Linked DNA regions of Homo sapiens: region 1 is linked to region 2. The links come from fine-mapping of genetic effects on gene expression. A gene starts in region 2. The other region holds a variant in brackets. All regions are shown on one strand. Distances are between the middles of the regions. Region 1 holds the start of RAB3IL1 (RAB3A interacting protein like 1). Region 2 holds the start of FADS3 (fatty acid desaturase 3).

The links.
Region 1: its variant is fine-mapped to the expression of FADS3 in whole blood (INTERVAL, PIP 0.94).

What each region holds. Positions count from the first base shown.
Region 1 is chr11:61,917,461-61,920,359 of GRCh38, reverse strand. RAB3IL1 (RAB3A interacting protein like 1) reads left to right here and starts at 2,794. Exons shown (of 10, transcript NM_013401.4): 1 at 2,794-2,899. The variant C/T (reference allele first, on the strand shown) is at 1,496.
Region 2 is chr11:61,890,182-61,893,080 of GRCh38, reverse strand. FADS3 (fatty acid desaturase 3) reads left to right here and starts at 1,536. Exons shown (of 12, transcript NM_021727.5): 1 at 1,536-1,912. The coding sequence starts at 1,700. RefSeq lists silencers at 828-1,637, 1,738-1,867 and enhancers at 2,068-2,237, 1,827-2,515, 2,516-2,899.

The sequences.
Region 1 (2,899 bases), 27 kb before region 2:
TTGAAGGAGATAGCGGCTGTCCTGGGAGGTGGTGCCTCCCTCCCAGGCTGCTGCTCTGGGGAGATAGCAAAGGTTAGTGTGAGGCTCAGCCTGGTGGGGGGAAGAAGGCTCCTGCTACCTCCCTTCCCGGCACCCTCCAGAGGGACCCTCAGTCTGGCCTTGCAAGCATGGACTCTTCTGAGGAGCACGCTGGGTGCCCCGCCCGAGGGACATGTCCCGTGTTCCTGGCCATGAGTGCAGGGACTGTCCGCTACGCCCCATCAGGCCTGTGCCCTGTACTTGAGGGGAACTTGAGAGAAGAGCCCTGGGGCACAGACAGGTGAGCTCAGGACCTGGGGCATGGAGGGGAGGGGGAGTCTTGGCAAGCTTCAGGGCAGCCAGTGTGAGAAGCTGGGCTCAGAGAGTCCTAGGCAATGGCTCTGATTGTCTTGTCCAATTTGGTGGCTGTACAGAGGTGGAGACTGAAGCTCAGAGAGGGCAAGACACTCATCCTGGGTCACACAGTGAGCTGAGGACACACCTGTAAGTCCAGAATCAGGGCCTGGGTTGTCCAGGCTGACTGTCTCCTGCTCCTCAGCTGCCTTCAGCCAAGGGTCTGTGGTCAAGGCTGCCAGGCTTGGGATGGAGCAGGCAGAGGGAGATAGAGGGAGGGAGGCTGAGGAGGGCAGTGGCTTGTAGGCAGAGGACACAACTTTTATTTATCCCTTCCCTGCCACTGGCCAGACACCTAGCATGTGCTCAGGAACCTCTTGCTGCCTGGCTGCACACAGCTGCAGCTGCCAGTGAGCCTCTAGTTTCTGGGTGGTCTTTTTGGAAAACGGGTGTAAGAGGACTCAGCCCCACTGCCCCTGGCTGGTGTGATATCAGGCAGGTTCCTTAACTTCTCCGAGCCCATCCTTTTCAACTGAGGAGCAAGTTCAGCTGAGCAGGAGGGTCCTCCCTACTGGGGGAGGCAGTGAGCCCTAGGAGTCCATGGTAGCAGGAAGCATGGATGACAGGCTATTTTTGGTTAGAAATTGAGTGTGGATGCTTCCAGAGTGGTGACCACAGACTTGTCCTTCAAGACCTCGCTCAAGGGCCTCCCCGGTCCACCAGACCTCCCAGGCTGAGGACTCTTCCTCCAGGGACATAGCCCTGAGCTGACGCCTCCTCCACCCTTTATCTCCCACTGGTCTGGGTTGCCATGACTTATCTCCTGCCGGGGCTTGTGAAGACTTGGAGGGCAAGGGCCCTGTGCTGGGTTCCTTTTGTGTCATTTTCTCCTCCTTCTCTAAATAGTGAACAAAATAAGGGCCAGGAAGACAACAGTTGCTCAAGACCAACTGATGAGGGATTCAAGCCAGCAAACACATGTGGACATCTGCTTTGGGTGGGCCAGACCCTGAGCTGGGCTGGGGGTGGGGTAGGGGAACATAGCTCCAAGAAAGAGAGAATCCCTGCCCTCTGGAAGCCGTGGCCATGGAAACAACTGCCCTGCTGAGTGATGGCTATGGGA[C/T]GCCTGGGCTGAATGATTCTAGAAAGTTGGAAGGGATGCTATGGAGAACTGCCTAGGTTGTTCACTGCACAAAGTGCTGGCCAAGGGAGCAAGCAAGGCATAGAATCCAGCCTCGCCTCCACTCTCCAGATTCCATACCTTGCTGTGCGCTGTGCCCAGCGGGGAAAGAGCATTGTCTATTTGTGCCCTGGACGTGGAGGTCTTAGAGAATACGTCCCCCATCCTCCATCCTCCACCAACGTGGAGCCCCAGGAGGGCAGAACCTATGTCTGTACAGTTTCCTGCTGGGTCCCCAGCCCCTTGCATGCCCCATAGTCTATGCTCAGATGGAGTGGCTGAATGTATGAATGAGTAGAATGAATGAATAAAATGTATCCTCAAACGAAGATCTGACTAACTTGAGCCTGCGGCCTGAGTCAGTGGGCCTGGAGGGGTAGCACTGGGACCTCTGGTAGCACCTAGAAGGGGAAGTACCTCCCACCACGCTCCCAGTCCTCCCCTAGACAGGGAAGGTGGGAGCCATGGTACCTGGCGGGAGAGAAGACGGGTTCTGCTCTTACTGGTCCAGTCCCAGGCTGAAGTTGAGACGAATGATCAGGACTCAGAATGGGTGGGACAGAGGAACTGAGGGACAGGTAGACCAGTCGTCTGGGATTCAGGGAAGGTTTCACGGAGGATGTGGGACCAGACAGGTGTGTGTATGTGTGTGTGTCGGTGGGGGTGGGGTGGGGAATACTATCCAGAGGGCAGATGGTGAGTAAAGGCAGGGATGGGCAGAGCGTGTTAAGTGGCAGGAGGCTGAGTGAGGAGAGTTGGACCAGAAGTGGAAACTCCTTCGGGATAAAACTCAGAGAGTAGGACTCAGAAAACTTGTTTCGGGTTTGTCCCCTCCCCTTCCCAGCAGGCAGGATGTTGCACAGGGACAGGCACTAAGCAGACAGCCTAGGGAAGGAGGGCCGGGTGAGGAGGGGGGAGGGTGTCTGCTGGCCTTAAGTGACAATCTGTGTGAGAATCGAAGAGCTGAGAGCTCGGGAGCCATTGTAGGTTCTTGAGCAGGGGTGGCCCAAAGTGGGTGGTGCGGAGGGCGACTGGAGAGGAGGAGTCAGCTGGGGAGTCTGAGCGCGGCGCGGCCCGCGGGATGTTGGGGGCCGGGTTCCCTCCGAGCGCCGTGGTCTCCCTGTCCCGGCGCGGCGGGCCGGGTGGGGCCAGGCCTTGGGAGCGCGCGCCGGATCCCAGCGCCGGGCCGGCGGAGGGGCGGGGCCGGGCACGTGTCCTCGGGCCGCTCCCCCCTCCGCCACGTGACCCGCCCAGGGCAGGGTCGGGGCTGGGCTGGGGGCCGCGAGCCCAGGCGTCTGAGACCTACTGACCGGCCGCGGGCAGGGCTGACAGGCGGTGGGGCGGCTC
Region 2 (2,899 bases):
GGTTGGGGTTCCAGGATATGGTCAGTGGGTGCCTCAGTGGAGAGGGCCCAGGCAGCCCCGGTGCCTGATGACATCATGGGCCTTGCTGGATGTCCTGACAAGCAAAGGCAGGAGCTCCTGGTACCAGGGAGAACTCGCCCCCTCTGCCCTTCTGGGGATACTGGTCCTCTTTAGACCAAGACAAAATATTAGCATATCAGAGAAATATACTTAGGGTTTTCTAAGTGCATTTCCCCAACCAGCCGGTCAGCATCACCTGTGAACTGGCCATGTAAGTCTCTGCCTCCACACCAGACCCACCGAATAACCCTCCTGGGTGGTTCTGATGGAAGCCTTTCAGGTGGTTCTGATGGAAGATTGACGACCAGCGCTCTGGAAGTAACTTTAGCCTGATTTGAATTCCTTGCTGCTGTGAACGCTTAACTTTTAGGAACAGGTATATTTATCACAAAGAAATCCGAAGCAATTAGGGGAGCTACCTACACTTTCAAAAGGACTTGAATGTATTTAAATTAAAAAAAGCGGATGGGGCCCGGGTGCAGTGGCTCATGCCTGTAATCCCAGCATTTTGGGAGGCGGGAGGGTCACTTGAGTCCAGGAGTTCAAGACCAGCCTGGGCAACATGGCAAGACCCATTTCTACAAAAATAAAATAACACCAAAAATTAGCCGGGTATGATGGGGCGCGCCTGTAGTCCCAGCTGGGGACTCCCGAGACTGAGGTGGGGGTATCTCCTGAGCTTAGGATGTTGAGGCTGCAGTGAGCCGACATCATGCCACTACACTGCAGCCTGGGCGACAGAGTGAGACTCCTGTCTCAAAACAAAAAAGAGGGGCGGGGAAGCAGTAACAAGCACAGGTGTCCTCAGCCCATGGATGGCAGCGCCCGCCTCCACGCGCCAGTGCCCTCCTGCTCCCCTACCTCCCCCTTGGCCACCCCTGGGCATCCCCAGCCCTGCAGCGCCGAGGGCGGAGGGGAGGCCACCCGCCCCCAGCAGAGGGCTCCGAGAGAGCTGCAGCGGCGGTGGGGGCCCCGCAGAGATTGGGGCCCATGGTTTGAAGGCTGTTCACAGGCACCCCGAGACAGCGTCCCCCCTCTGGGCGCACTGGATTTGACGTTGCAGGACGCGCGGCTGGAAGCCCCCCAGGCCCCGCTGCTCACAGACCGGGACTCCGCCTCCGGTTCCCGAGGGCGTGGCGAGGCGCTGCGGGACGCCCAACAGGTGCGTGTTGTGTCCCCAGGCCCCGCGCTCCGGGTGGAGTCAAGAACCTGGAAGCCGGCAGCCCGGGAAAAGGGGGCGGGACGGTGCCCCGGGGCAGGGCTGGGTGGCGGCCGCTGTCCTCCCGGGAGGGGCGGGCCGCCTCGACGCCGCCCTCCCTGGCGGCCAATGGAGACCGAGGCCCCGCGCCTGGATTGGAGCGGACGCGGGGGGTCAGCCAGCCTTGGGGGCCGGGGCCTGGCCGGGGGCGGGGGGGCAGGCGAGGCGAGGCGGGCGCCGTCCGCGCGGTTATAAGGCGGGGAGTTCCCTGCGCCGCGAGCCGGGAGGCGCACGCTCGCTCGTACGGCGGCCGCGGCGGCAGGGCGGGGCCGGAGCAGCGGGCGGCGGCGGAGGCGGCGCCCGGGAGCGCTCTTCGCTTCCCTCGGGGTCTTGCTCGGACCTCGGCCACCGCCTGGGATCCCCAGGACTCGTGCGTGCAGCATGGGCGGCGTCGGGGAGCCGGGACCGCGGGAGGGACCCGCGCAGCCGGGGGCGCCGCTGCCCACCTTCTGCTGGGAGCAGATCCGCGCGCACGACCAGCCCGGCGACAAGTGGCTGGTCATCGAGCGCCGCGTCTACGACATCAGCCGCTGGGCACAGCGGCACCCAGGGGGCAGCCGCCTCATCGGCCACCACGGCGCTGAGGACGCCACGGTAAGGAAGCCATAAGGAAGCCACCCACCGGCGGGTGGAGCCTGGAGCTCGGTCGTGGGCGTGATGTCCCGCTCCACCTGTGGGGCCTTAGCATCCTCCCTCCCCTCGCTGACCTTTGACCTCCACGCCGGGACCCAGAGTTGGGGTGGACTAGCCAGGGCCAGATGTGGGGTAGGGAGGGCAGTTCCCTGCGTGGAGGACCCGCAGCTGTCCACGGAGCAGGTCTGCGGGGGAGGAGGGGGCCTCAGAGGTGGGTGTGTCATGCTGCAGAGCCTGCCCTGGGTGAGGGGCTGCCCTGTTGCTCCCAGGTCCCTGTTTCAGTTCTGGGTCCCCATGCTGGGTGCTTGCTGAGTGCTAGGGGTAGGGCAGGGCAGGGTCCCCAGGGGCCGGTAAGGACATGCCATTAGAGGCTGGGGGCTGGGCCGGCCTGAGGTCTGTGGCTTTCCCAAGAGCTTCTGTAAAGGGCTCAGGGACAGTGACTCACCTCTCCGGGCTAGCAGCTGCACGTGGGAGGGCTTTGCCAGCCAGGCTGGGTGGGCCTCTCCTGGAAGCACAGTCACCCCAGGAACAGGCTGGCCCCTGGGGACCCCAACTTCCCAATCCCAGCCCCTGTCTAGACAGGCAGGGATGTAGCCTGGCCCCAGGGTACTGTCTGGCTGGAGTCCAGTGGTGGAGCAGCCCGACCAGCCCCTTTTCCTTAGTTACCCACCTGCATAATAGGGGTTGGGGCCACGATGCCCTGTCCTTGACCCTCCAAATTTCTAGGTTGGCCACACTGGGTATCAGGAAGGTCTTCAAGACCCGAGGACATGAATCCTGAATGCTGGCTTTTTGGGCAGCAGCGGAGGTTCTGTCCAGTCCCAGGACTGTCGGCGTCCCTCTTGACAGGGCCACCTGCTCTCTGCCGATTGCCATCTCCAGCATGTTGGACAATCTTCACTGGACTCTTTGAGGAAGAAAGCCCCTCTTTTCCCCTTCCACCCCATG